2 separate regions of the Homo sapiens genome follow, and region 2 is linked to region 1. Evidence: fine-mapped expression QTL. A gene starts in region 1. The other region holds a variant in brackets. All regions are shown on one strand. Distances are between the middles of the regions.

The links. PIP is the estimated chance that this variant, and not a neighbour inherited with it, causes the effect.
Region 2: its variant is the best candidate, but not a certain one, in a credible set for the expression of NT5C3A in monocytes after interferon gamma (Fairfax 2014, PIP 0.82).

Annotation. Positions count from the first base shown.
Region 1 is chr7:33,058,650-33,068,876 of GRCh38, forward strand. NT5C3A (5'-nucleotidase, cytosolic IIIA) reads right to left here and starts at 4,127. Exons shown (of 9, transcript NM_001002010.5): 1 at 3,919-4,127. The coding sequence starts at 4,056. It overlaps LOC124901610 (a long non-coding RNA gene), which reads left to right and starts at 4,536. Exons shown (of 4, transcript XR_007060279.1): 1 at 4,536-4,999; 2 at 5,380-5,498. RefSeq lists silencers at 3,762-3,821, 4,122-4,241 and an enhancer at 4,482-4,641.
Region 2 is chr7:32,988,280-32,998,506 of GRCh38, forward strand. It overlaps FKBP9 (FKBP prolyl isomerase 9), which reads left to right. Exons shown (of 10, transcript NM_007270.5): 6 at 228-373; 7 at 7,884-8,070. Among named protein-coding and RNA genes, the nearest start is that of FKBP9, 36 kb to the left of the region's middle. The variant G/A (reference allele first, on the strand shown) is at 5,449.

The sequences.
Region 1 (10,227 bases):
CCAGAGTAGTACACTCTTTCAGAAAGACAGAGATGTTCCGTATTCCCCTCAAAAGGCATCTGTCCACATCTCCCCTAGAACTTTGCTAGACTGATTATTTTTTCTCCTCCTCTTATCTTTAACCATTTGCTTTTCACTACTCCTCTGCCCACCAACATACTTCTGTGCCAACCATTCGAAAAACAAAACAAAATACCCATCCTCAGCACAACTACTTCCTCTGCCCAAAAGTCATTTTTTAGTTGTCTTCACATCATTGTTTTACCAACGGCGGCTCAACCCACTGCTACCATAGCCTTTCAGACCAACTTCTGATCTTGTCATCAACTTCTGACCTTAGAGAAGATGGACATAGCTAATTCTGCCCCTTCTTTTGGAAACATTTCCTGTTATTCCACCTCTGACAGCTTTCAGCATCTTTACTGAACTTGGCATTGCCAAGTTTTCTGTTTTCTTCTCGCTGTAAAACTATGGATGAGAAATAATATCCAGCTCCACACTGGCCATTGAGAGGCTAGACATTAGGGAAAATATTATTTCTAGCCTCAATTTATCTTTAGAGCTCCAGCCTTCCATTTTCAGTTGCTATTGCTAATAATAACAATAAGTAATGTATATATTGGTTACTCTGGGCCAGGCACTTTTCTAAGCACTTTAAATATATTAACTATTTCATGAACATTTCTAGTTGGTCATTCCTTGATCATCTCAAATTTCATATGACTTAAAGTGAACTTGTGATTCCACATTTCCCTTACCTCCTGGCTACTTTCCAAACCTGCCATTTTTTCCTTCTCTTCATCTTGGCTAATAATATAACCAGAATCAGCAGTTACCTGATAATCTTAAAGTTATTTCTCCTTACAATTAATCCCTTTATCTAATGATCACAAATAATAAGCTCTGAAAGAAAGCAATTATGTTCTAGGCACTGTGTTATCTCATTTAATCTTCACAACCTATGAAGTAGGTACTATCATTATCTCCCAATTAATAGATGAAAAATGGGAGATTCAGAGAGGTTAAGTAATTTGCCCAAGGTCACATGGCTTGATAAATGAGAAAAACTAGATTCAAAACTAGGTTTGTATGACTCTACAGTCTGTGCACAAAGTCCCGTTGATTTTATCTCGGAAATGTTTGTCTCCTGATCCCTTATTTCCATACCTGTTGCTAGTGCCATAGTTTAAGATCTCTAATCATCTTTCGCAAGCAATACTACCAACCTCCTAAATTTATTTCTTTCCAGGATCTTCCCTTCCAGTCCACCTTATCTCATCTTCATAAAACATACTGTTGGGTTTTTTGTTTCTCTGTTTTGAGACTCTGGGTGACTCTGTCACCCAAGCTTGAGTGCAATGGTGTGATCACGACTCACTGCAGCCTCGACCACCTTGACTGAAGAGATTTCACCTTCGGCCCCTAAGTAGGTGGGACTACACTACAAGTGTGTGCCACTGCACTGGCTAAAATCTTTATTTTCTGTAGAGAAAGGGTCTCCCTATGCCGCCCAGGCTGGTCTCGAACTCCTGGGCTCAAGGGATCCTCCCGCCTCAGCCTCCAAAAGTGCTGGGATTGCAGGCGTGAGCCACTGTACCCTGCCAAAGCAAACCTTTGATGATCCTTTGTTGCAAAATAAAGAGCAAACTCTTTATAATGGCTTTACAAAATTCCTTTACAATTCAGTTTCTTGATCCCATTCCGTATCTTGCTTTCCTTCTTTTTTTTTTTTTTTTTTTTTTTTTTGAGACAGGGTTCTCCCACCTCACCCTCCCAAAGTGCTGGGATTACAGGTGTGAGCCACCATGCCTAGCCATGACTGGCTTCTTCTGTACATTAATCTTGCTGCCCTATGGGATATTTCAGCTGTAGCATACACAACCCACTAGCAACTTCCTCATGTCTCTCAATTAAAAACTCTTGCAAGACAATGCATCATTTTGACCAAGTCCCAGAAGTTATTGGTTTTCTTAGCCAGTTAGATAGGCCCAACTTGGTTAGGTAGTTAACTCCGTTAGCTGTGACCAATATGAGCTATGTCTGTTGGACATCATGGGTTTGCAGAGATTTTTCTGAGGGAGGAGGGCAGAGGATGGGCAGAGCAGACCTACATTATTACAGAAAGATGGAACTAGGATTCCAACCCAGGTCTTCTGACCCCCAGTCAAATACTTCTTCCACTTGAAGAAGCAACCTATTAAAATTAAAAAAGTTAACATGAAGCTCTTTTCACTTTTTCCATTGAAAAGCTACTAGCAGGCTACACATATATTACAATCTGAATTAATATACTATGCATACATGTAAATATTGACTGATTTCTTTAGTACCAATAAGTTGGTATTCTAGATAGGTCTTCATTATTTGTCACAAAGATAGCAAACTGTTCCTATGATGGTATCATTGAAGGATTTTGTGAACACACTGATTTTTAACCTTACTTGGCTTAGATAAGTGGTATACAGACCAATCCATAGTTTAAGCACAGGCAGGGAGATATGGCAACTCGGTTTTTTCCCCTACATAGGCATTATTAACCTTGGGCAAAAGAAAGCCAAGTTTTCTAAGCAGGAAAGCAACAAAAGCAAAATGAAACTTCTGAGTTAAAACCATTTGCTGCTGTGGGCATACAGATGTGGGACAAATGAATTTTAATAAGCCTTTAGAATTATTAAGACCCTTTAAGAATAAATTAATTCAAAATTAGGGAATATTATTGGAATATGAGACAAGTGGGAATTAACTTTTTTTTTTAAGAGACAGGGTCTCGCTATGTTTCCCAGGCTGGAGTGCAGTAGCTATCCACAGGTGTGATTATAACCTTGAACTCCCAGACTCCAGTGATCTTCCTCTCAGCCTCCCAAATAGCTGGGACACTGGCTAATTTTAATTATGCAAATACATCTGTATTCAACCTGGGGTCAGTACAACCAATAGGACAAATCGTGTCTTTCGTCAGTTGGAACATATTGCAGGTGCTCAGAAATTCCAAGTATTACACCCTAAAATGATATTATTTAGTGTAGATTTTAAATTTTTTTCTATCATAAATCATCTGACCCTAGATGTTCACATGTATAGCACACGGTCAGGCGTATACCCAGGATTATGCATTTCAGGAAATACATAAGCGTGCAAGTTTGTGCAAGAATTGTCTTCCTGAGTGGGTTCTAATTAAAATACAAAACGAAACTAAATATCCTCATTTTTGAAACAATTACTTATAATGTATCTCAAAGGGAATTCTTGAGACACCCTCTTCAATAAAAAATTAAATTCGAAAATGTATACAAGAGCTTTGGGAGTTAAGATGAAAACAAAGATATTTCGTGGGAGTTTTGAGACAAGAAGGAATACATTCAAATACAAAATAAACTATCCTGAATTTCTCCTGGATTGCCATTCTTGTAAAATTTTAGATATTGCACATTTTCATAATCTAACTCACGGCAGCCCCAACATAAAACTAGTCCTCTGCGGGAATTGCAACTAGATTAGCGGCAACGGTTTGACGCGGATCCGGGGGGAGGGCGGGAGCAAGGCAGGGAGAGAAGGAGCCACCTGCCCAGGACATGCAGCTTATCTCTAGAGAAACGGGTTTTGCAGCACAAAGTAGCCTGTGTCCGATTCATCTATTTTCTGCCTTGTTCCTTCAAACGGAAACCTAACAAAGACCACGGGCAGCCAAGGGCCGCAGCCGGGGACCCAACCCTGGTCACCAAGCCCGCGGAGTGGCCGCACGCGGGGCGGCCGGGTCCCCCAAGCTGCGCGTCCCGAGCTAGCGAGATCCCAGCCTGACAGGCGACGCCGGCAGCTCCCCGTCGCGACCGAACAGCGGCCCAGCACAGGCTGCCGAGGCCAGCGGACGGCCCAGCCGGCCCCTCGCGTGCTCTGGGCGCGCCGAGCCTCCACACTCACCATCTCGATGATCTTGGTCTTCCGCCCCGTCTTCCTCTTCAAGGTGAATATGTACTGAGCCAGCACCACCCCCGCCACCAGGGCGCACACGCTGGCGCTCGCTACCGCGCCCACCCTCGCCACGGCCGCGCGGTCCATGGACGGGGCCCTCATGCGCGTCCAAGCAGGAAAAAAACAGGCAGCTCGCGTAGACTGCGAGTCTCGGAAGCGCGGGATCCCAGAGCATCACGGACGAGCCCGCGACGCCCCGCCCCGCGCAGCGACGCCCCGCCCCGCGCAGCTCCGCCCCCACGAAGCCCCACCCACACGCCATCGATGGGAGAGGCCAGGACGCGGCGGGAGGGGTGTGGCCTGTGCCCGGAGCCCAGGCTGGAGGCGGCCTTCAGCAGACTCAGGGTCTCACGAGCTGCTGTCAGGGCAGGGCAGAGTATTGCGGTAATTATCCTTCTCTGCTAATGAGGATTAGGCCGTGGTTCGCTCGAGCCCCGCCCCAGTAGAAATCTAATTCCAACTGCGGCCCGCTAAGAAGTCGGTCTCCGCCTTCGCGCCTCAGCCCCTCTGGACTCCGACCCCCAGAAGGCTGCGCGGCACGGTGTGACCTGCGCAGTGGCGTCCGTTCTAAGTGCTATAACAACAGGGGGAAGATGGCTCAGAGTTAGGCTGGAGAGGGGCGGTGTCCCTTCCGCCGCAGCCGCGGGGTTTCTGCTACATCCCATTCGCCACCTCCGCCATCCTTTTTTCTGTGTGAGCAGAAGGGCTTGCAGTTGTTCTCTCCTGCCTAGTGTCTTCCAAGGGATAGATGCCATTTCTTCTGCTGGTCTCTGGGGGTGAGGAGGGGCGCAGGGGAGCTTCTTGGGGGAATCGCTCCAACTCTGTGGAGCTGGTGGTGCTGCCTGGTGGGGCTCTCTCTGCCCAGGACGTGGAACAACTTTCAGCCGGAGGACTAGAGGAAATAGTTGTAGGGGAGGAAAAATTGTTTCCTTCTAGCCTTTTAGGTCATTTGGCTGGTCTACAAATTAAATTGATGTAAGACAGAGGAACATGAGAAAAACGATTTGTCGACCGAAAGGTGAAATAACAGGTACTAAAACTTAAAGAAATCATGGTTAGTTTTATTACTCGGCCAAGTTTGAGGACTTAAGCCTGGGAACACAGACTCAGTATAGACCGAGAACGTGTCCCAAAGTAAGTTAGCTGGGAGTATAACCTGAAGAAGACTGAGTTTTAATACCCAGAATATTTGAGTATCAATATCTAGACTACTGTGTCATTTTGTCGCCAAAGTAATTTTTTATGAATCCAGTTTTGCACCAAATACCAATATGACTTAAATGTTGTCTGATTGTGAGGCCTAAGATGGTCACAGTCTCATTTATCTTTCTTCCTCAACAAAAACATTTTCCATATATTACATATTATTTTGAATGGGTAGAGACTAAAGCCACGTTTCTATAATTTCAGGATTTTAAACATTTTGTAGACGATAACATTCGTCTTGAAGCTGTGGACAATCTAAAACAGAAATGGAGTTCCAAATTTTGTTTTTGTAATATGGCCCGTCAACTGCACATGGGAAGAATGTGGGTACTCTGAAATATGATTTCTATTTTAACTAGTTATACTATATCATAGGTCTGATTATCATCTATATGAGATGTTAAAGCTGTAGGAGTATAGTCAATTAGACTACAAACCCTGGTAGTAAATTTCCAGGAGGAAAGGGGTCCATATGTTTTTTATAAGTGTAAACCTTGTGTTTCTGAATCTAAGAGGGTTGGCCATGTTTGGAGACTATTTCAGCTTCTATGTGAATTAACATATTAATTATTCTTGTTGAAAGACATGGAAGATCTTGATATGGTTTGACCCTGTATCCTCACCCACATCTTATTTTGAATTATACTCCCATAATTCCCATGTGTTGTGGGAGGGACCTGGTGGGAGATAATTGAATCATTGGGGTGTTTTCTTCCATACTGTTTTCGTGGTAGTGACTTAAGTATCAGGAGATCTGATGGTTTTATCAGGGTTTTCGCTTTTGCGTCTTCCTCATTCTCTCTTTGTCTGCTCCCATCCATGTAAGATGGGACTTGCTCCCTGCCTTCCACTATGATTGTGAGGCTTCCCCAGCCACGTGGAACTGGAAGTCCAATTAAACCTCTTTCTTTTGTAAATTGCGCAGTCTGGGGTATGTCTTTATCAGCAGCCTGAAAACAGACTAGTACAGATCTCTACACGGAGAACTACAAAATACTGATGAAAGAAATCAGGCCAGGTGAGGTGGCTGGTGCCTGTAATCTCAGCACTTTGGAAGCCCAAGGTTGGGGGATTGCTTGAGGCCACAAGTTTGAGACCAGTCTCGGCAACATAGCGAGACCCTGTCTCTACAATCCCTGAAAAACCAAAGAAATTAGCTGGGCATGGTGCTGCGTTTCACTCTCGTCCGTGTGAAGAGACCACCAAACAGGCTTTGTGTGAGCAACAAGGCTGTTTATTTCACCTGGGTGCAGGCGGGATGAGTCCAAAAGAGAGTCAGTGAAGGGAGATAGGGGTGGGGCCGTTTTGTAATATTTGGGTAGGTAAAGGAAAATGTGTTAACAGTCAAAGGGGGGTTGTTCTCTGGCAGGCAGGGGTGGGGGTCGCAAGGTGCTCACTGGGGGAGCTTTTGAGCCAGGATGAGCCAGGAGAAGGAATTTCACAAGGTAATGTCATCAGTTAAGGCAGGGACCCACCATTTTTCACTTCTTTTGTGGTGGAATGTCATCAGTTAAGGCAGGAACAGGCCATTTTCACTTCTTTTGTGATTCTTCACTTGTTTCAGGCCATCTGGGCATATAACTTGCAGGTCACAGGGTATATGATGGCTTAGCTTGGGCTCAGAGGCCTGACACTGCATGCCTGTAGTCCCAACTACTCAGGAGGCTGAGGTGGGAGGATTGCTGGAGCCTAGCAGTTGGAGGCTGCAGTGAGCTATGATTATGGACTCCAGCCTTGGTGAAAAGGTCAGGAGATCGAGAACATCCTGGCTAACACGATGAAACCCCGTCACTACTAAAAATACAAAAAATTAGCTGGGCGTGGTGGCGGGCGCCTGTAGTCCCAGTTACTCGGGAGGCTGAGGCAGGAGAATGGCATGAACCCAGGAGGTGGAGCTTTCAGTGAGCCGAGATCATGCCACTGCACTCCAGCCTGGGCAACAGAGCAAGACTGTGTCTCAAAAAAAAAAAAAAAAAAAAAAAAAAAGTGAGACCCTGTCTCAAGAAAAAGGAAAAGAATGGAAGAAAGGGAAGGAAAGAAGGAAAGAAAAAAAGAAAGAAAGAATAGATGACACAAACAAATGGAAAAAACGCCTCATGCTCCAGGATTAGAAGAATTAATGTCATCAAAATGACCATACTGCCCAAAGCAATTCAAATTCAACAATACAGATTCAGCAAATACAGATTCAGGAATACATATTCAGCAAATACAGATTCAACACAATACCTGGCAAACTACCAATGTCATTCTTCATGGAATTAGAAAAAACAATCCTAAAATTCATGTGGAACCATAAAAGGGCCCAAATAGACAAAGCAATCCTAAACAAAAGGAGTAAAGCTGGAGGTATCACATTTTGACTTAAAATTATACTACAAAGCCATAGTAAACAAAACAGCATGGTACTGGTATAAAAATAGACATGACACATAGATCAATGGAACAAAATAGAGAAACTAGAAATAAATGCCCCATATTTGCAGCAAACTGATATTTGACAAAATATACACTGGCAAAAGGACACCCTATTCAATAAATTGTGCCGGGATAATTTTAGAGCCATATGCAGAAGAATGAACCTGGACCCCCGTCTCTCACCGTATACAAAAATTAACCAAGATGGATTTAAGACTTAAATGTAAGACCTGAAACTATAAAAATCCTAGAAGAAACCCTGGGAAAAACTCTTCCGGACATTGGCCTAGGCGAAGAACTTATGACTAAGTCCTCAAAAGGAAACAACAAAAATGAAAAACAAAAGTTGACAAATGGGACTTCATTAAGCTAAAAAGCTTCTGCAATGCAAAACAAATAATCAACAGACTAAACATACAGCCTATAGAATGGGAGAAAATATTTGCAAAGAATGCATGTGACAAAGGGTGACTATTCAAAATCTATAAGAAACTCAAACTACTCAACAAGAAAAACCATTAAAAAGTGACCATACTGCCCTTGACATGAAGGACAACATTTTTCAAAAGAAGACATACAAATGGCCCACAAGCATATGAAAAAATGCTCTACAACACTGGTCATCAGAGAAATGCAAATCAAAACCACAATATGATATCGTTTCACACCAGTCAGAATGGCTTTTAAAGTCAAAACACAACAGATGCTGGTGAGGCCATGGGGAAAGGAGAATGCTTAAACACTATTGGTGGGAATGTAAATTAATTCAGCCACTGTGGAAAGCAGTTTGGACATGTCTCAAATAACATAAAACAGAACTACAAGTCAACCCAGCAATCTAATTACTGGGTATATATTCAAAAGAAAAGAAATTATTCTGCCAAAAAGACACATGCATCACAGCACTATTCACAAGAGCAAAGACATCGAATCAACCTACGTGTCCATCAACAATGGATTGGATAAGGAAAATGTGGTACATGGACATGAGTCAATACTACACAGCCATAAAAAGAACAAAATCATGTCATATGCAGCAACATTAATGCAGCTGGAGGCCATTATCCTAAGCAAATTAATGCAGGAACAGGAAACCAAGTGCTGCATGTTCTCACTTATAAATGGGAGCTAAACATTGAGTACTCATGGACATAAAGATATATATATTATATATATTTTATATAATATAAATTATATAAAATATATAATTTATATATTATATAAGTATATATAAAATATATATTTTATATATAACATTATATTTGTATATATAATATACAATATCTTTTCAGGCAGCTGCCTAGCCTTTATTTTATATATTTTATATGTTATATAGTATATATTATATATAATATATAAATATGTGTTTTATATATTTATAATATGTAATATGTAATATATTTATATATATAATTTATAAGTATATAAAACACTTATATATAAATATATATATTTATATATATAGATGGAACTGCAGACCATTTTCTTTAGTGAAATAACTCAGAAACAAAATTAATTTTTTTTCTCACTGACAAGTGGGAGTCAAACAATGGGTGCACATAAACATACAGAGTGGAATAATAGACATTGGAGACTCCAAGTGGTGCAAGGGTAGGGGGGCAGGATAAAATACCACCTATTAGATACAATGTATATTATTCTGGTGATGGGTGCACTAAATGCCCACATTTTACCACTACTCAATATATCCATGTAACACAACTGCACTTGTACCCCTAAATCCATAAAAAAAAAAAAGAACTAAAAAAGTGAGTTTGGACACATGCTCTTTTTCACTATTGGACCTTAGCATTTTCCCCATAAATTGAGCAGTTTGATTTACCCGCTTTAAAAATAGCATCATTATCTTTTCAGGCAGCTGCCTAGCCTTTATTTTTTTCCTGGAAGAGTACTTCCTTTAGCTTAAATTTAGGTCAGTAAGTATTGATTTTTTTTGAAAATGCCTTTTTTCATTATATGCACTCTTGACTTGCCCTAACACCCCCAATCCTGCACCTGTTGCCCCTAAGGATCTCTACCTTACTTGGCCAGTGTTGCCATATCCACCAAACATGTTGTTGCCACTGGGCATTTATGGCAGAGGTGCAGTTTGAGTATAAGTTATGGACCCAAAAATGTTGAGTGTTCCAAATCAACATGAGGTGAATGGTAGCTACTCCTAAATAGAGCTTAGTCTGAGTGTGTCATAAGACTTCCCATATTTTTTCTGAGTGAGTCCTAAATTACCATCTAGTGGGATCCTAGTCCATTAAGTGATTCCTACTGTGTGATTTTAGGTTACATTATACTGTTTTTTTTCCAACCACAAAAGCAAGGTTTCTGTCCCCTCAGTCAAGAGATACTGTGACAGGGCACACAGGTTGCTGCTGTCTTTTCTTATACCTGGGGACCTTGCACAGTAACTGATACCTATATTTATAGAAACACAATGATCCATTTGTCAAGTATTAAAAATAGACCAACGAGATCTAGAATTGGGAAGGACTTTCTGGATGTTCCTTTCTACATGGGAACCTAGATAGTACATTATACTATTTCAGATAGTATATTATATCTGAAAAGAAAGTACCATAAGCTGTAGGAACATTGGATTGGTTCCAAGCGGTTGACATT
Region 2 (10,227 bases), 70 kb before region 1:
GGCCACATGGCGTGTCCCTACAGGTGGCTGTTCACATGCTGTGTGGGGGTTCTTATTTACCCTTCCAGGGGAGCATGTTTCCTGGCTGTGTCGTCAGATACTGTGGTTTACGCTGTTCCGGAGTCTGGAGGCCTCTGTGTGCCTTTGCATCTCTTTCCCAACTAATTTGCACAGCTGCTGTGGAGGCCCTCATGAATGACCTCTTTCTTTCCTTTCTTCTTTTCTAGCTACTCTCGGAACCGCACGTTTGACACGTACATTGGGCAGGGCTACGTGATTCCTGGGATGGATGAAGGTCTACTTGGTGTTTGCATTGGAGAAAAGCGAAGGATTGTGGTCCCGCCTCACCTGGGGTATGGAGAGGAAGGAAGAGGTGAGCATCAGCATCACCTGCCTTCCTCACTAGCTGTGGCTGCTTCCACATTGCTTGAAACAGGGCTTCTTTTTCTTTTTCTTCTTTCTTTTTGAGATAGGGTCTCCCTCTGTTGAACAGGCTGGAAAGTGTAGTGTGTGATCATCGTGTACTATGGCCTGGAACTCTTGGCCTCAAGTGATCCTCTTGCCTCAGCCTTCAGAGTAGCTGGCACTACAGGCACGCACCACCACACCCTGCACAGAACTTCTTGAGAGCCAAAATATTGAAGCTAAAGTCCAGCTTAAGACTGGAATTCCCAAATAGATTTAGTTTCTAGAGTTGTCCTGTTATTTCTCCTTGTTTCTCTGCCCATTTTCCTTTACCTTTTGAAAATGTTAAATCCTACACCAAAGTCAAAAGCACGTTATGGTGAATTCCACTTTGTTTTGCCAGTTGTTAACATTTTGCTATATTTGATCTCTTTTTATATTTATTTATTTATTTTGGGCTGAACCATTGAAAGTAAGTGCAAAAGCCCCTCTTTGGTTTTTGTTTTATATATTATAAAATTCACCCATTTAAGTATACAATTTAGTGACTTTTAGAACATTTAGTGGGTTATGTCACCATCACTATAATCCTGTTTTAGAACATTTTTGTCACCCTCATACCACACTTCCTTTTAAAAGTTACACAAATCATACATGTTGACTTTAGAAAAAGAAAATACAGTTAAGCAAAGAAATCCTGCCACCCAGAAATAAAGATTTTTTTTCCTTTTTTTCTTTTTTCTTTTTTTGAGATAGAGTCTCATTCTGTCACCCAGGCTGGAGTACAGTGGCACGATCTTGGCTCACTGCAACCTCTGCCTCCTGGGTTCAGGTGAGTCTCGTGCCTTAGCCTCCCAAGTAGCTGGGACTACAGGCATGTGCCACCACGCCTGGCTAATTTTTTTTTTTAATTTTCAGTAGAGATGGAGTTTCACTATGTTGGCCAGGCTAGTCTCAAACTCCTGGCCCAAGTGATCTGCCCACCTTGGCTTCCCAAAGTGCTGGGATTATAGATGTGAGCGCCATGCCATGCCAGAAACAAATATTGTTAATCTTAATCTGGTAGGCAGAATATTCAGCCCCTCCAAGTATCTATGTTCTAATCCCCAGAACCTGTGAGTATGTTACCTTACTTTATTTTGTTTTGAGACAAAGTCTTGTTCTGTTGCCCAGGCTGGAGTGCAGTGGTAAGATAAGCTCCTAACTCACTGCAGCCTCCAGCTTCTGTGTTAAAGTGATCCTCCTGCATCAGCCTCCTGAGTAGCTAGGACTACATGTGTGTGCTACCATGCACGGCTAATTCAAAAGCAATTTTTTTTTTTTTGTAAAGACAGACATGGTCTTGCTATGTTTCCCAGGCTTGTCTGGAACTCCTGAGCTCAAGCAATCCTCCCACCTTGGCCTTCTGAAGTGCTGGGATGACAGGTGTGAGCCACCATGCCTAGCCTCCTGTTACCTTATTAAAAGGGACTTTACAGATTTGATTAAGGATCTTGAGATAGGAATAGTATTCTAGATTATCCAGGTGGCCTCAAAATACTTGCAACAGTCTTTGTAAAAGGGAGGCAGGGGGTCAGACCGGGGAAAAAGTGCTAAACTGCTGACTTAGAAGATACAGAAGGAGGACCCTGTCAGGGAATGAAGGTGGCCCCGAGAGGCTGGAAAAGATGGAAACACATTCTCCCCGGCAGCCTCCAAAAGGAACATATCCCTAACAATACCTTGAATTTATGCTTCTGCCTTCCAGAATTAGGGGAATCCGTTTGCGTTGTTTTAAGCCAACAAGTTTGTGGTATTTTGCTGCAGCAACAGTAGGAAACAAATGCAGCCATGAAGTGAATGTCCTTCTGTACCTTTGAGTTTATGTATAGGTTTAAAAAAAAATGCCCACCTACACTAATCAATACGGACAAACATGGGATTGTCTATGCGTATTACTTTGTGATTTCTCTCTTCACCTAATTTGTGGTGAACAACAGATATGTTGTGAACAACTTTCTATGCTATGTATTTTAATGGCTGCTCCCTCGCTTAGCAATAGTTGATGCAGTATTTATTTTGTTTTTGTATTCTTTTGCTGATGGAGGCTGGCCTTGCTGGCTGTACATTTATTTTGTTAGTTCTGTTCTGTTTTTTTGTTGATACATCATATGTATCTTGAGAGTTTTCCCAGTAGTGTTCATCCCAGAGGATCCAAGAAACGTCAAGTTGGTTGGAAGGTAGGTTGTACAATGGAGAAATATTTTTTTCTCCCTGACTTAAATTTCTGATTGATTAAACCACAACAGATCACAGCTTAAGATCCATTCGACAGGGCTTTCTTCACACATCCTGCTTGTCTAGTGTCTTGATTCTCTATTGCTTTTTATCGTGTGGATTTCTACTTCTAGTCAAATATAAACAGAAACAGATAAATACTTTCTGAATGTTCTTGTTTCTTTATGGCCTGAGGACTAATCTTTCCTTTCTTTGAAAAGAATGCATTGATGGAAAACATTTGCTTAAATTACTTTTTTTCCTCTTGGCTTTCTATCAAGTATGAGACAGAGCTCTGCAAAGAATTATATAAGCCTCTGGGAAGCAGCCGAAGGCTCGTAAATTTTCTGGGCAATGAGACTCCTTCATCCTGAATCACGTTGCTGTGGGAGGAGGGCACCCTGAGTGACCCTGAGGTATAAACCCCAAGTGCTCTTGAGTGGAGTCTGCCTCTGTCCTCTCCTGATCAGCACCCTTGGCCTCTTTGTGGGGGTTACATAGGAGCTCGTGCTGATCCCTGAGGGGCTGACCCGAGAGGGGTCAGGATGCTGAAACTGTCTTCTTAGTGGCTTCTTCACTGCATACCACAGGGCCAGGCACATTGTGAATGTTTGGCAAATATTTGTGGAAGGAATGAATTGTGGGCTGACCGTGTGCTCTCAGCCTCTATCAGCATTTCATTCTGTCACAGCCATTTTCCCCTGCAAGATTGGTGGAGGGGAAAGGGTAGGCCTCCTGGGAGAGGTTCTGGATCTTTCTGCCATCTGCTTTGTTCCATGGGTCAGCCCTGAAATTAGGGCATTTGGATGGGTTTGCAGCCTCAAAGTGGAGAATGGATTCTGCCTGCGAGGATGTGTAAGCATCACTTCATCGATGGTTTGCTGTTACTCAACTTCCAGATTACCTTTTGAGCACCCTTTTAGGAAAGAGAGGAAAGTTAATAAATTACATTTTACCCACTGTGTGTCTGGGACTTCTTGCACATGAACTCATTCAAACCTGGAAACAGTCTTCTGAGGCATCATTACCCTCATTGTTTAGAAATATAATGAGGCCCAGAGAGTTCCACCCATGTGTCCAAGGCCACAATAGCTAATCCATGATGGAGCTGGAATTGGACCCAGGGCTCTCTGACCCATATGTGTCCTAGACAGACAGAAAGAATGAGTCCCCATTAGGTAGTGACTTGTTGATACCCATATGTGGAGAACCGAGACCTCAAACCAGAAGTCCTAGAGCTCTCAGAGGAAACACACCCGCTCAGAGGAAACCCACCTTCCTCAGAGGAAACCCACTCCCCTCAGAAGAAACCCACCCCCGCAGAGGAAACCCACCCCCTCAGAGGAAACCCACCCCCCTCAGAGGAAACTGACTCTCTGCAGAGGAAACCCACCCCCCGCAGAGGAAACCCACCCACCGCAGAGGAAACCCACCACCAGCAGAGGAAATCCACCCCCAGCAGGAGCTGCAGAGTTTCTTGGGTGGGCTATTGGCCGCTTTTAAGTTTTTCTCATCTGTATCTCTTCTGAGGGAGGCATCCTCATGGTGAGAACAGAATGATGACTTCTGCATTGGTTAAGGGTTTATACAGAGAGGAGGTTGGTGTTGGAGCCACGTTGGACTATTTCTGCCCGTTTGCTGGTCAGCACTCATTTCTATACTTAATCTACAAATAGCTTTGTGGAAGTCAGAGCAAGATAGAGGGATAGAGGTTCGAAGCCTTGGTGCTGCCTGGGGTAGGTGGGGTCTATGGTTCAAGGCTCTGATCTTCATTTTTGCAGGCGGAGAAACTCCATCTATCCATCCATCAAAGATTTATTGAGTTTCTTCATGACCAGGCCCTGCTCACGGTGTTAGGGATTCAGCAGAAAGAAACACAAACAAAACTTCCTACGCACACAGAGAGTGTTTCCTTGTTGACGCCCTCAATAATGTGTGTGCCTCAGAGGTTATCAGGCACCTGGGAGACTGACTCACGTTAACTTCCTAGAAGCTGACATACTCACCTGATGCTACATGGTTCCTTGACTGGGTGTGAATCGACCTCTACACTGGTTGGAATTCTTGTGCCTGGAATCCTCGGGGCCTGAGAGGCTGAGTTCATTTGACTGCTGACATCAGATCCCAGGGATGTGGGTGGTTCCAGATGCATTCCCTTTTGCCCTGGAGAAGGCCCTGCACCTGAATGCATCTTGGAGGGGAGATTATATTTGAATTGATAAAATTTGGTGACTGCTTAGCTCAGTGTTAGAAGTTTTTAAAATTTGTGGTAAAATATACTTAACATCTTTACCTTGTTAACCATTTTAAGTGTACAGTTTAGTGGCATCAAATATATTCACAATGTTGTATAACCATTACTATCATCTACACTCAGAACTCTTTCATCATCCCCAACATAAACCCATTACACAATAACTCCCGATTCCTCCCTCCTATCAACCTCTGACAACCACCTTTCTTTCTGTCTCTACCAATTTGCCTATTCTAAGTGCCTCACTTGAGTGGAATCATACAATATTTCTCTTTCTGTGTCTGTCTTATTTTACTTAGCATAATGTTTTCAAGGTCTATTTGTATTTTAGCATTTATCAAAATTTCAAGCTGGGCGCGGTGGCTCACGCCTGTAATCCCAGCACTTTGGGAGGCTGAAGCAGGCGGATAACCTGAGGTCAGGAGTTCAAGATCAGCCTGGCCAACATGGTGAAACCCTGTCTCTACTAAAAACACAAAAATTAGCCAGGTGTGGTGGTACGCGTCTGTAATCTCAGCTGAGGCAGGGAAATC[G/A]CTTGAACCCGGGGGACGGAGGTTGCGGTGAGCTGAGAACATGCCAATGCACTCCAGCCTGGATGACAGAGCAAGACTCCATCTCAAAAAAAAAAAATTAATTCCTCATTTCTGGCTAATAAATTTCATTCCTTTTTATTGCTGAATGAATATTCCATTGGATGTATATACTACATTTTGTTGATCAGTTCGTCTGGTGATGAACACTTAGGCTGTTTCTACTTTTTGTCTGTTGTGAATAATGCTTAATGCTTCTGTGAATATGAGTGTACAAATATCTGTTCGCATCTCCAGCTTCAATTCTTTTGTATATATACCCAAGAAAGATATTTTTATTTAATGTTTTCTTGAAATATAATTCACATACTATAAAAATAATCATGTTAAAGTTTACAATTTAGTTGTTTTTAGTATATTAACCAGGTAACATAACCATTACCTCTACCTAATTCCAGCACAGTTTCATCACTCCAAAAAGTAACCCATAACCATTAGCGGTCACTCTCCGTACCCTGTCCTCATCCATCCACTTCCCCCACGCTGGCAACAGGTAGTCTATTTCTTGTCTGTATGGATTTGCTTATGCTGGATGTTTCCATATCCCTGGAATCCTACAGTATGTGGCCTTTTGTGTCTGGCTTCTTTCACTTAGCATAATGTTTTCGGGTTCATTCCCAGGTGATTTTTAACAGGTTACCAAGGTTGAGGAACCATAGATCTGCCTCTGCAGACACCCACCCTGTCCATGTGTGTTAGCTTCCCACACAGAGCCATCCGTGGCCTGGCTTTGAGCAGCCTTCTGGCCAATGGCAGGCTGTACTTCCTGGTTCCTGTGGGAAGGAGCCTGCACCCCACTCCACCCACACCAGCAGCCCCTGTTTTGAGTGAGTAGCAGGCACCTGTGTTCTGCTATTAAAGCACACGCTTCTCAAATTATTACCTTTAACTTTGGCCAGCCCCAAAATTTGTACCTCCATTTTCTCAGGATTTTAATGAGAATTAAACAATACATGTTTAATTTAGAAGAATGCCTGGTACTCAATAAACGCCTATTAAATATGAGCGTGAGTGTGTTTCTATTAGAGATAGGAGAGAGACCAATCAAGAAGCAGACACAGAAAAGTACGTGTTGGGACAGGAGGTAAGGAGGGACTGTTGGAGTTTGTGTATCTCTATCTGAATTTTGTCATTAGCTGTGTTATTCTCTTGAATAAGTAATATCATGTCTGAATTTTTCATTTCTTTCTTTCTTTCTTTTTTGAGGACGGAGTCTCACTCTGTTGCCCAGGCTAGAGTACAGTGGTGCAATCCTAACTCACTGTAGCCTTGACCTCCTGGCCTCAAGCAATCCTCCTGCCTCAACCTCCCGAGTATCTGGGACTACAAGTGCTCACCACCACGCCCAGCTAATTTTTTTGTAGAGACATTTGGCTGTGTTGCCTAGGCTGGTCTCAAACCCCTGGCCTCAAGTGATCCTCCCACCTCAGCCTCCCAGAGTTGAGATTATAGGCATGAGCCACCACCATACCTAACCTGAGTTGGTTTTTTTATATGTAAAATGCTGATGATAATAAAATATGTCCTTGACTCTAGGTAACATGATTTTAAAATATTTTACATTTAAACTTCTCTGAAATGATTTGGGCTGGGGGATGTATTACAACTGATGCATATGTTTAAGTGTCCCCCACGCCCCTGGGAAGCTGTCGTTAAATTCCTGGGGTTATGGCCATGCCTACCCCATAAGGTTGCTGCAGGGATTTAAAGGGAAAATGTAGGTGAAAAATACTTTGGCAAACTGTAAAACATTATTCAGATGTGAGCTACTGTCTTCAAAATTGGAAATTATGGAAAAGTTAATAAATAATTTAGTATAGAACAAATAGGATGTATTCTAAAAGCACCTTGTGACTGTTAGGTGTATGATCATAAGGGGCCAATTTTGGGGGAGAGGTGTTTTTTTCTTTATGAAGTTTATGTTATGTTTTTCTTGAGCAGTGGTAGGACATTGGAGTGATTTCACTCTACGGCTGATTTTCTCACCCCACCTCTTACTTCCAGTGGGCAAGGGGCAAGTATTAATTTGGCTGGGTTTGAGTTTCCTCATCTGTGATCAACTTAGCCACTCATCTTTCAGGCTCAACGATTCCATGGGGCAATAGTCCATAGTCTTGAATTTTAGTCCAAACTGTGCTCATTACAGGCTGTGAGACCCACGGCAAATCTGTGCCTCCGTTTATCCACCTGTAAAATGAGGATGAGGTTACATCTAACAGCCCTTTCAGCGTCAGTCTTGGAGTCCTCCTAGGGTTCTGTATCTGGGTGCCCGTTTTCCTCACTTGGAGGGCCTTGAGGACATACCTGGTGACACTGGGGAGGCCCATGTGCTGCAGCCTGCAGGGGTCATTCATTAATTCCCCGTGTCTGTCCTTTAGGGAATATCCCCGGCTCGGCTGTGCTGGTGTTTGACATCCATGTGATCGACTTCCACAACCCTTCGGACTCCATCAGCATCACCTCCCACTACAAACCCCCTGACTGCTCAGTGCTGAGTAAGAAGGGAGATTACCTCAAATATCACTACAATGCCTCACTTCTGGATGGGACCCTGCTGGACTCCACGTAAGGGCAACCAGAATGGTGTGGGAGTGAGCCTGGAGGGTGACAGTTGCATGCTCCCACCATCCTCCTCTCTTGGGTAGATGCTGGTTGAGAGCTTTTATCTCCATGCTGCCCCACTGCATAGCTCGTGGCTGCATCACTGCTCAGGTGCATTGTGTTAAGAGTTTCCTATTAATGGTCTTGCCCTGCTGCAGGTCATTTTTCACCCCATGAAATTGTCTTTCTGAAAAGCAGATCTCATCGTATAACTGCTATCTTTCCTTCCTTCCTTCCTTCCTTCCTTCCTTCCTTCCTTCCTTCCTTCCTTCCTTGCTCCCTCCCTCCCTCCCTTCCTCTTCTTTCCTTTCTTTCTCTTTCTCTCTTTCTCTCTTTTTTTCCTTCCTTCCTTCCTTTCTTTCTTTTTTTTTTTTTTTTGATAAAGTCTCACTCTTTTTTTTTTTTTTTTTTTTTTTTTTTGAGACGGAGTCTCGCTCTGTCGCCCAGGCCGGACTGCGGACTGCAGTGGCGCAATCTTGGCTCACTGCAAGCTCCGCTTCCCGGGTTCACGCCATTCTCCTGCCTCAGCCTCCCTAGTAGCTGGGACTACAGGCACCCGCCACCGCGCCTGGCTAATTTTTTGTATTTTTAGTAGAGACGGGGTTTCACCTTGTTAGCCAGGATGGTCTCGATCTCCTGACCTCATGATCCACCCGCCTCGGCCTCCCAAAGTGCTGGGATTACAGGCGTGAGCCTCCGCGCCCGGCCAAGTCTCACTCTTTCACCCAGGCTGGAGTGCAGTGGTGCTATCTCGGCTCACTGCAACCTCTGCCTTCCAGGTTCAAGTGATCCTCCCGCCTCAGCCTCCCAAGTAGCTGGGATTGCAGGCACGCACCACTATACTTGGCTAATTTTGTTTACTTTTTAGCAGAGAGAAGGTTTTGCCATGTTGCCCTGGCTGGTCTCAAACTCCTGGGTTCAGGTGATCCTCCTGCCTCAGTTTCCCAAAGTGGTAGGATTACAGGTGTGAGTCACTGCACCTGACCCAGGCTAATTTTTAAAATTTTTTTAGAGATGGGGGGGGTCTCACTATGTTGCCCAGGCTGGTCTCGAACTCCTGACCTCAAATGATCCTCCCCTCTTGGCCTCCCAAAGTGCTGGAGTTACAGATTTGAGCCGTCATGCCCAGCCGAACTGCTTTCTTTAAAAATTGATGCACAGAGGCTGGGTGCGGTGGCTCATGCCTGTAATCCTAGCACTTTGGCAGGCCAAGGTGGGCAGATCACGAGGTCAAGAGATCAAGACCATCCTGGCCAACTTGGTGAAACCCCATCTCTACTAAAAATACAAAAATTAGCCGGGCGTAGTGGCGGGCAAATGTAATCCCAGCTACTCATGAGGCTGAGGCAGGAGAATCTCTTGAATCTGGGAGGTAGAGGTTGTAGTGAGCCGAGATAGCACTGCTGCACTGCAGCCTGAGCAACAGAGTGAGACTCTGTCTCCAAAAAGAAAGAAAAAGAAAAGACCCTATGGATATACTCTTCAGAGCTCTCCCTCTCGGTATGGGATCCTGTATGCTAATGCATTTAATGTATTTCAACAACTCTAAAGAGCGTGATGGAAACATTTCATGTATCTCTGACCAAGTAAAAACGCTAACTGATGACATACTGTCAGTCATAAAATGTATCCTAATTATAGAAAGGTTAAACTGTGAAAAAATATGCATTTTAGAATCAGTGAAATATGTGCTAGGCTTCCAGGGCCCAGATGTACAGGGACCTGGCTTACAACAGACCTTGCAAAGAAATCCCAACCACTGACTATTAGAAGCTAGCGGGAGGCAGGGCAGCAGGGAAGGGGCATGGCTTGTAGTGCTTTTGTGGATCAAGTGAGCTCCTAAGAGTGAAAATGGTCCATGAGGTTAGAAGGGTCTGTAAGGTCCGTGGCTGCTGTCACTGCTCCTGCTGATGTTCATATTCCTGTCCGCTGATCCTGAGGCTGAGGAAAGGGGAAGTGGGTGTGGGGAATGAACAAAGGAATTCCTTCTCGGAGGCTCCAGGATCTGCTTCTCACGTGGGGCGGGGAGAGTCAGTCTCCCTGCCTCCTGCTTGTGTTTGAAGGACTCATAACATCCTGGCAGAGCACTCAGGAGCCACATGAGCCAGAGCTCCTTATCAG